Linked DNA regions of Homo sapiens: region 2 is linked to region 1. The links come from fine-mapping of genetic effects on gene expression. A gene starts in region 1. The other region holds a variant in brackets. All regions are shown on one strand. Distances are from middle to middle.

Region 1 (5,389 bases):
GTGCCAGAAGGGGGATAACATAAAGCATAGCCCCCAGACACCCCTCAATGGACATGTATCATGTACAAAAAAAAAATTGTTGTTTTACACCACTGAGATTTTGGGGTTGATTGTTACCACAGCACAACAAAGTTTATGCTGATGTATACAGACTTTGGTCCAGACTTAGGTACCGCTATAACAAAAATCTAAAATATAAGTCACCATACCTAAGTGGTCAAGCAGCAATTAACAAGGAAACTGTTGTGGAAAGCTAAAAGGATAGTGATCTATGTCACCCAGGAACAAACCTATTGGGAAAAATCTTTGGAAAACTCTGTGATAACCTAGAAGGCATGTGATTTAACTAATGAATTTAAATGTTGGGAGAAGAGGCTGGAAAACAATAACATGTCAGTTGCTACTGTTTGTCAAGTTATATGAGAAAGAGATGAGCTCAGAAATGGCGGTGTGCAAGCAAGAATAAAAACAGACCACCCACAACTCTGAATTATATTTTAATGACAACTTACAAAAGCTACAGAATAATTTTCTTCTAAAACATTTTATTCCCCTTCAGAACTTTGCAGCATGTTTTCAATGCCTTCCAGTACTGAATGTGCTATATAGATGAGTCTAAAGTACTCTAATTAATTGTTTTTTCTTCATCCCACTCCCCCGTTCATTTCATGCCTAGGTACCTAAAAAATTCTCTCTTTATTCTGAAAAGTTGAATGCCTTAATGAGGCTGCATGTCTTGGTGTTGATTTTTCTATAAATTGTCCTATAGAACATAGTGTGTATCCTTTTAATCTATGTATTTTTCTTCCTTTTTTTTTATCAAGTACATTTTTTCCTCCATTTGCTGTGGGCACATGTTAATCTTATGTTGAGCCATCTTTGTCTCCTTCATACATATTATTTTTAATAACTTTCATATCTCTGGGTTTTGCCTAGTATTGTTATTATTTTAAGACTTTCCTCTACATTATAATTTGATGTGCATCTCTCTAGTCTGCTTCTTAAATGCTTTTAAAAATTATTTCTTTAAGTCCTTTAAGGTGGATGTTGTTGTCTTCAGTTAATTTCCTTAGTTCTTTTATCTCCATTTTATTTCATTTATTCATCAAATATTTATTTACTATCTACTATATGCAAGGTACTATCCCTAGTAGTGGATAAAACAACAAGACTCAGCCCTCATAGAGCTTGAGTCTTATTATTTTAGTATCTTGTCTTTAAGTTCCTGTTTTATTGCATTCATATTCTTAAGTTCTTCTTCAGCACAAAGTAGATATGATGAATTTTCTTTTCTCCCCTCTTAGGCTAGGTTTTACCCCAAGGTCTTGTACTTTATCCATCTTTTACATCGTTCCTTCCTTCCTCTCCCCCTTCCCTCCCTCTCTCCCTTCCATCCTTGTCTTCCTTCCTTCAATTTTAGGAGTCCATAGGATTCCCAATAATTTTTTTCTTTTTCATTTTCAGCATGTGGAATTCTGTTCACTCTATTTGCTCTGTATGTTGGTCAGCTATCACTACAATAAAACTGCACCCCAAAATTTCAGTAATTTCAACCAAAAACATTTCTCTTGCTTATAATATTCTGAATAGCCCGCTGCGGTTCAACCGATCTCAACTTGGCTCACCCGGGTTTGCATATACGGAAGTTTTGGAGTGGCTGGCATGTGAGGCTCTACCTTGCTTGGCTCTTAAGCAGAACTGTCTCTCAGTCTGATTCTCTAGAGACTGAAGTTATTAATAAGATGTGTTAGGACTTTTCTTTCCTGTGTGGGGAATAATGACTGGGACTGCATGAAGGGTAGGGCTCTGCAAAGGCCAGTGTATCATCTCACCTAGCACTGATAACACACTGATACAGACCTATTCACATCACTGCCTACAAACTGGACCAAGACTTGCAAATTTTGGAAGCCCCAGACGTTGGGACTTTAGCATCAAGACCTAAAATGCCCAACTTTACCTCTACCACTGACCCCATACTCAGTAAGAAGTTAAGAATAAATCCAGCCTACAAAAATTTACTGACCGAAAGCTGCCTATTACCAAAAGATATAAAATCCATTGCAACTTTAAACCTACCGGCTACCAGAGAAATTTAATAGTAACTACTACGTGTCTTGGTGGGACAATAAAGTGTTCTAATCCATTGAATATTACAGTTCATATTAGCACATATTCATAGCACATACCATATAACTTTTTATTAAACAAAGAAGACTTCTTAGAGTTTCGTAGTTCTTCAGAATTTTTGTGGAAAATATTAATTTCATTAAAGAAGTACTTGAGTTCTTAATTAAAATCTGGTCTAATTTGATCAATAGAAGTTTACATATTTTAATGTTTGACAATTTTAAGTAGTTGGTAATTGTCATAATGCCTAACTTTTTAATCTTCTCCTGCCTATCCCATCTAAATACCCATCTAAATGCCTAGTGTTAATCTCGTGTCTTCTATCAGACTTCTACATACTCATCTACATCCTCAACCACTGAATCCTATTGCACTTATAGTCAACGCCACACAATTCTTTAAGTATTTCGCGTGTATGTCTTCAATTAGATTGTAAGCTTCTTGGAACTGGATCTATGCCTTAATTTCTTTCTAATCTTCCCAGCGAGCCTACAAGTTAATTTGGGGAGTATACAGCGTTCAACAAATACTGGTTGGGTCTGTGACCTTAGCTTTGCCATTTTTGTCAAAGCGTATAACCATCTAGTTTCAATTGTGCCCTGACATGACTATTTCTCTGGGGTTTCTCTTTGCTCAACGCCATTGTTCATTTTCTATTAGAATAAAGGGCTTGTTGAACAGAGATGCCAACGCAGCGTCCCGTGGAATCTGAATAAACGGACTGATCCACCGCCCCGGGTGTTGAGGCTGTGAACAAAAATTAAACCTCTGATAGCCCACGAACAGCTTAACGACACATATTTTAAAATACCACTCCAAAGCCTAGTTACCTGCCAGTTACCCCGGCCTCCGGAGCTGCCGATGCTCGAAGATGTTGACAAGGCAGCTAGGATATACAGTCCAGAAGCCCAGTCGCTACGGTAACGGTGACACGCAAGTGCACTTGCGCGGCCTTCTGACGGAAAACCTTAGCCTGAACCTACAGACGTGCTTAGCGACGGCAGAGGCTTGCGGCAGTAGCGTGACTTACGGCAGCTCTCTAGCAGAGCGCCGTTGCTGGGGGAATGCAGAAGCGGCCGCGGGCTAGCAAGCTCCCGGAGCCGGCGGCGCACCACCATGACCCAGTCGGTGGTCGTACAGGGTAAGCTACGCCGGGCGGGTAGAGACCTGGTCGCCGCGGAATCCAGCGGCCATGTTTCCTGCTTAATGTCCTATTCTCTTTCCTTCCTCTCCTCCGGTCGCAGTCGGCCAGTGCGGAAACCAGATCGGCTGCTGCTTCTGGGACCTGGCACTAAGGGAGCACGCCGCGGTCAACCAGGTACCCGCCCGCCGCCGCGAGCCCCCTCGCCTGTCAGCTAGGTCTTCCAGCCCATACGCAGGAAATAATCGACTTGAGCTTTCATCTGACCCGTTTAAGATGCATGGGATCTTCCCAGTAAAGAACGTACTGGTTTTTAAACATGTTGCGTCAGACACACACTAAACTAAAAGAACACTGGCCAGCGACCTTAGTCTTAACGTTTTTCCTGATTCTCAGGGTCTCCTCTTTATTGGTGTTCGTGTGCAGAACAGTGAGATTTGTATATGGGAAAGTACTTTGTAAAATAGATAACACGTGTGGTTATTGTATTCCTTAATTTAACCAGTCAGCTTTTAAAAAGATTACGAAGAATCCAGAGAACGCTCATTTGATGGACCTGTCCTACAGTCCTATGGGTGAAATCCTTTCTTTAGCACCCCCTGCTGAACTTTTTATCTGTAGATCTGGCATTTACTCTTCTAAGGAGATTGGGAAGAGTCAGGCTCCGCATTTTGTGATACTTGGTTTTTCTTATCAGAGTCTCATCCTAGCCATTACAGTATTATGTAATTAAAATTGAAAGAACTTGATTTGGGCGAGAAGCAAAACCTAAATGCTATTAACATATGTTTTTCTTTTTAGAAAGGAATTTATGATGAGGCAATAAGCAGCTTCTTTAGAAATGTGGACACCAGGTAAGATGGGATTAAAGTCTGTCACAGTGTGATACTTTAAGTTTCAGTAGCTTGGGAGAGAATTCTTCAAAGGACAATAAAAATAGCCAGCTGCGAAGTTGTGTTTTTTTGTTTCATTATTGAAAGCATATTTATTCTATTAGATTATTAATATTCTTATATCATTTTCCCGAAGAAGACAACAGATTTCCCTTTAGTGTGACTTCTTTTAACTTAACCTTGAAATAAGTTTCATTAAAAGAAAGCTGAAATTTTCCCAGAGGGCATCTTGTTAATGCATCCTGTAATAACTAACTTTTGAAAGAAAAATATATTGTTTACATATATGCTGTAAGTATAAAAATATACTTAAAAAGGTGACAAGCAGTTGTTGGATTGTTTTTGTTTATTTAATAAAGAGTATATGTAAGTACCATATATGTTTTATCTGGAAGAGTAATTTAAGTTGCCGTTTAGGATATCTCCATAAGCTTTTAATATTAAATCATTAAGTTCATGCATTTTCAAAATACTTCATAAAACTAACTGTCCTGTGCTTAAACTGAAAAATACATACTTCGTGTCAGGCTTTAATCCAATAGGAACATCAGTTCTAGTTTAAAATAGTTGGCTGGGTGTGTGAGCAGTTATCTTCAGAGAAAGCTGATTAGTCCGCGCTTCCTGGGTGAATTCCAGAGTCTATCTAGGGCACTGGCTTGCAAACTCAGAAGTGTCATTGGCATCTCGAGATGGGTTCAGTGCTCTCCAGTACAGCCAGGTTAACCAAAGACCAAATTCTCATTTTCATAGGCACATTACTTTATCTTTTGTAGGAAATCTAACTGAAAAGCTGTGTAATAATCTGAAGGTTGCTTGGTGACCATGGAATCAGACCAAAGGAAGTTAGTTACTTTAATGGCTGGTATCATTTATATTTATTTTATGGAGATATCTGTCATATAGACTATAGATTCCCTCTTATTTGTAGCCCACAATATCCTCACCTCTAAATTCTCTTAGGAGACTCAAATTTGCTTCTGTCATACTTCCTTTCCGGCGCTTCTCTTGCTAAGTTCCTACACCCACCTCTTTACTTCTTGTTACCCAACGCTTACATTGAGTATTACATAGTTGAGACTCAGCCTGGGAGCTTTTCTTTCTTCATAAGGTGACTCTTCATAACTACACTCTCATCTACTCTGTGTGTTTTATACTTTAACCTGAGAGCACTATTATTTTCCCGGTAAGTTTGGCAAACAGGGTTGTGGCATCTTGCACTTCTTTC
Region 2 (5,389 bases), 66 kb before region 1:
TGATTGAAAAAAAAATGAAAACGCTGTGCCTAATGGATGAGTCAGCCCTTTTGTAGAGGGGGTAGAATGATTATAGACTTGGTTAACAGAGAGGGAAGTAGCCAAAGAAATATAGAGAAAGTCCCTCTAAGGGAGCACACAGGGACTGGAACTGGATGCTGGAGATTGAGGAACAATTACCGAGCTCAACAGGTCAGGCGGTTTGAAGACAGGAGCCAGTGTGGGATCTGCAATGTCATATACTGGGTCACGGAGGACCTTCTGGAAGTTACTGACAAATGAGGTGATGATACTAATCATCGATGTTTGGGACTGAGAAAAAAAAATAAGGAATTGGTGGATTTAAGACTGAATAAAATTAAGACAAAGGATTTAGACGAACTGCGGAAGTGGAGGTTAGAGTTTATATTACAGAGGCAGTAGAAGTATTTGTCAATAAAATAAATTATGCGGGTACACATAGAGTTTTAAAATCCCAATTCAGGAAATGGTGTAGGTATAATAATAAACCCTGACGATTAGCAGATGCCAGGCATGGTATACCAAGCATTTCTATATTTTATTCCTGTTATATCTCACATTATTAGCCCCTGTGTGCAAGTGTGCAAGTACCCTGTGTGATGGGTACTCAGTAAATGTTGGATGAACCTTACACAGGCCAGAGAGGGGCAAAGGCAGAGACTATCGTGTGAAAGGGCAGGGGTGAGGGTGGGCTGAGGTGGGGCTGTGTGCTGAGGAAGGGCTGGGGCTGTCTCACTCCTGAGGCCCAGGATGCAGCCAGGCCTCAGGAGTGAAACAAACCTTGACAATACGTGCCCTGGCCAAGCTCTGCATACTCTCCTAGAGCCTTGGCTTCCTCTACAGAAAGGAAATAACAATGCTGATTTGGATAAGCACTAGGTAGTCATCATAATGGTTCATTCCTCTGCCTGACTTCCATCACATAAACAAACTCCTGCAAGAAGAAGTGCAGAGGGCTGTTTTTAAATCGTCATTCCCTTTTCCTGCTGCTACTGCCAGACAGGCAGCTGTCAGAGAACCAAAATGCTGTTCAGCAAAGACAGAAGAATGCAGAGGAGGTGTGACCCTCAAGAAAACCTTGCCACACTAGGTGACTTTGAATAACAGGAAGGAAGCATCTGTGATCCTAGAAGTATTTAAAAAGCAAGCATTAAACATGGCCCCATTCCCCAAGAAGGTAAGAAGGAGAAATAACAATGTTTGTTTATTAACAGGAAGTTGCACAGTTCAGATATGAACGGGCTGGTACAGAAGGCTTTGGATGCATCAAATGTCTATGAAAATATTGTTAATTATGTTAGTGAAGCCAATGAAACAGCAGAATTTGCTTTGAACACCACTGACCGAATTTATGATGTGAGTATTCCCTGAAAGTTCTTTATACCTTGCCTTTCCCACTGGCTTTTCTGTTTTCTGATGTCATCTCTTGAACTTCCAGTGTGAAATCCAAATGGCAGAAAGAGTGGAAAAGGCAGGGGAACTAAGGGAAGACCATTTCATGAATGCCTTGAAGGTTTCAGTCTGCAGATTCTTCGAGATGTGCTGTAGTCCAGTCAGCAAATGCCAGTTCCTTTGACAGTTTATTTTTTTAGCCAAAGTCCCTGAAAAAAAAAATATGTATTTAAAATTAGTTCTTGCTGATAGAGAAGATACTTTATGCATTCATTTATATTTTTTTCAACTCAAAATTATTTATTGTGTGGCTTCTATGTGGCAAGCACTTTGGTGGGGCCTTGGCCAGGGCTTTGTTCTAGGTTCACTGAATCTTTCCCAAAAAAACATTACCTTGAAAATGCCAAAGGCATTACTTCCTCATGGTCACATATTTGACCTTAATTTTAAGCTGTGAAAATAAAGCTAAATGCATTTTGCTTGGTGTTTAGCAGATAAACTGTGTCATTTAAATCCTTCAACTATGAATAGCTGATTTCTTCTGCTGTCATTTTTACCCTCTTCTCTCAATTCCTTTGTAGGCGGTGAGTGGGATTGATACTCAAATCATTTACCATAAAGATGAAAGTGAGAACCTCCTCAATCAAGCCAGAGAACTGCAAGCAAAGGCAGAGTCTAGTAAATATCTTCACTTTCCTATCTCCTTTCTAATTTATAGCTGCTTCCCTCCTTTCATACACGTAGACAGAGATTTCCAAATCTAGGATTAAAGAATAGTATTATAACTACATAACATATCAGTAGTTCCTGCTCAGAGTCAAGTTACAAAAGAGCAAAGATTTGATACTTTAAATTGTGATTGAAAAAAAAAATGCTATGTAGTAAACTACATGGAAACACATAGCTATCTCACATACTGTGGCTATTCCTGCTAATCAAATAGGCTGATTAATAGAAACTTACCATAAATACCAATTTTTAGGGGAAAAATGTCCTAAAATACACTTAACACTAAAACTATATTGCACAAAATTTCCTCTTTCTTGAACAATTTCGAAGTCCTTTTAAAATGTTTCCCATGAAGGAA[C/T]GAGTCATCACTGTGAGTCAATTAGGATGACAGGGTACCACAAAGCCATCTGGTTATTTGCTTTTCTTTTTTTTTTTTTTTTTTGTAGTTTGTGTTCTACATAGGTTACTGTATTTAGGACAGACCTAACAAGCATATGGTAAGAAGCATTTCCAAAGGCCAGTGTTTGCATCTGCTGAAGTGTGCACATCCAAGGGTGAGGGAGGGAAGGAAAAATAAAAGCAAAATCGCATTAGACAATTTTGAATCTTGTGAGTTACTCTTAAAAACAATCGAATGGACTAAGAAATTCACTAAACATTATTCATCTCTGAGATAATGAACTAATTCCCAAGGATTTTTGAACATTGACTAATGAGGTTGGAAATTCATCATCTAGCGAACTTCTAACTGCCACCTAAAAACAAAGGCCAAGTTTGAAACTAAAAACCTCACCCAATTTTGTTGAAGTAATTAATCTCATTTAATCATGCATTTTCTTTATCTTTTGCAAAGAGCCATTACACAGAGAAGATAAATGCACTTTGCTTTTCATACACAGATACTTATTTATTTCCCATAAAACAACTGTTATTTTATTTTTCTGGGCAAACAAAGGCAATAAAAAGTGTCATTGTTTCTCTAGTCTAATTATTATATGTCTAATTAATTTATTATGTAAGTCTATCCTGAACATACTCTATGGATTAGAATATCAGTAGTGAAGAATTAGAATATTAACAGTAAAATATTTTAAAATAAATGTTGCTATATCTATGTATTGCTTTTGTTTCTTGTGAAGATCAGAATGTGTCAGTCTTCATGACACAGTGACTTAAATATTTTATTCTTTTTGATAACTTGTAATATATTCTCTCAGTCTTGTCATTATTGAGTTATTGAACCTCATAAAAGCAACTTTTCTATTTTAAATTTAACCATTAATCGATCCCTACCCACATCCCTTCAAAGTTCCATATTTTATGTCTGATAAATCTCTCTGCATTAGCCTGTTTGAATATTTTGCAGACCTGTTCACCTATTTCATGATCTCATTTGGCCAAATCCCTTTCTGTATTTATTTGCAAAAGGAACAACAACAGGGAGTTAGTACTGTGTGGCTTAGAACTTTATAGGACTGTCTTCCTTTGATAATACACACATTTGTGATGTACATTCAGGTTTTCAAATTAAACCATAGTCATCTACTGAATTACATTATAATTTCAGATTACATTTCTCCATTCCAAATTCCTTTCAATGATCAGTAATCTTTATTTCCCAAATTTCCTTTTCATTATATATCAAATAGTTGATAGTCAATATAATCTCAGGAAGCTGCTATTTAAATGAATCTTCTACTTAACTCATTTGCAAAATGAAAAGTATTTATGCAAGTCAGTAAATTCCAAATAGAACACACTTCTTATGAAACATTTCTTCTTATAAACATCAAGCCCAAAATTGATTTTCTTCCTCCTCTTTTTATCAAGTGCTCCAAATATAGAGTTAAATATATTCTTTCTCAGTATATCAGGTAGTATTTTTTTTTGTTTTTGCAGTCATGAGACCCAAAATAAGAGCTAAAACATTGTTTGTATTATAATGTTTGGGAATTGAAATTAGAAAAGAGGAAGGAGGCAGGGTGCAATGCAAATTCTTCACACTACCCAGAGAAAATATGAAAGAAGTGCTTGTATTTGGTTAACTGTACTTCATGACACCACCACCCATTATACACATATCTGGGGGGGAAAGATAACATTAAACCAATCACATCAAGACTACCTAATAGAACAGCAAAGGGGTGCCGTCAGAGAGTGTATATTTACAATCCCATTGGAGAGAAAGAGAAAAGTGTAATTAGAAGTGATAAAACTATTTTTCTGTTTGTTAAGAAACAAAATTCTCAGTGCTTTGGAATTAAAGCACAAACAGAAATGAAGAATTACTGGCAAAGTTGATCCTTTAGTTCAGATGATGAGGTAATTACATCATGATCTGTTGGGATTTGCTCAAAGATAACCAGTCTAGTGACTGTGCCACAAGTGTGCTTTCAAGAACAATTTTATAAGCAAAAGACTCTCAAAACTGATGCAAATACAAAATCTGATAGAACTGTATGTACATACATATGTATAATAAATTTAACCACTAATCGATCCCTACCCACAAAGAAATCTCAAGGCTCAGATGGCTGCCCCAGTGAATTCTTAAACATTTAAAGAAGAAATAACACCACTTTTATACGAGCTCTTCTAGAAAATAGAAAACAAGAAAGCACTCTGGAACTTGTTTTATGAAGCCAGCAAAACTTGGTTACTTGAATCACATAAGGATATTATTAAAAAGGAAAATTATAAGCCAAATTCTCTCACAAAAAGAGATGCAAAAATTCTAATCAATATATTAGCAAATCAAATCTAGCACACCTATAAAGTGCAATATATGATGACCAATTTGAGTTTATTTTAGGATTTCAAGAATAGTTTAACATTTAAAAAATCAATTGTAATTTGTCACATTTATAGGATATAGGAGAAATTCATATGATCATCTCACTACATGCAGAAAAATTATTTAACAAACTTGACTTTTAAAAAAGATTTTTGACTTTTAAAAAAGACTTTCGGCAAACTGAGAATAGAAGGAAACTTCCATAATCTGAAAAATAAAATAATATTCAGCAATTAAAATGGAAATATTGAATGCTTTTCCACTAATATTAGAAACAATACAAGGACACCCTACATTACCAATTCAATGTGTAAAAATCCGATTTAATTTTACATACGACATTGGGAAATTAACTTTTAAAAATAACAGTGTTTGCAATAGCATCAAATACATAGGAATAAATCTGATAAAAGAAGCTAAGGTTGCTACGCATAAAGATCTAAATAAATGAAG

Alleles and levels. Positions count from the first base shown, and alleles are read on the strand shown. Sizes are in standard deviations (SD) of each study's normalised expression.
For the expression in monocytes after R848 of the gene that starts at base 3,199 in region 1, C is the low allele of the variant in region 2 and T is the other (large effect, 0.82 SD a copy in Quach 2016).

The links. PIP is the estimated chance that this variant, and not a neighbour inherited with it, causes the effect.
Region 2: its variant is fine-mapped to the expression of TUBE1 in monocytes after R848 (Quach 2016, PIP 0.95).

What each region holds. Positions count from the first base shown.
Region 1 is chr6:112,085,292-112,090,680 of GRCh38, reverse strand. It overlaps TUBE1 (tubulin epsilon 1), which reads left to right and starts at 3,199. Exons shown (of 12, transcript NM_016262.5): 1 at 3,199-3,271; 2 at 3,375-3,448; 3 at 4,073-4,125. The coding sequence starts at 3,247. It overlaps FAM229B (family with sequence similarity 229 member B), which reads right to left and starts at 3,090. Exons shown (of 4, transcript NM_001033564.3): 1 at 2,961-3,090. RefSeq lists enhancers at 3,030-3,219, 2,954-3,485, 3,620-3,669.
Region 2 is chr6:112,151,553-112,156,941 of GRCh38, reverse strand. It overlaps LAMA4 (laminin subunit alpha 4), which reads left to right. Exons shown (of 39, transcript NM_001105206.3): 15 at 1,236-1,377; 16 at 1,995-2,091. LOC107986633 (a long non-coding RNA gene) reads right to left here. Exons shown (of 2, transcript XR_001744299.2): 2 at 1,209-1,622. Among named protein-coding and RNA genes, the nearest start is that of FAM229B, 67 kb to the right of the region's middle. The variant C/T (reference allele first, on the strand shown) is at 2,501.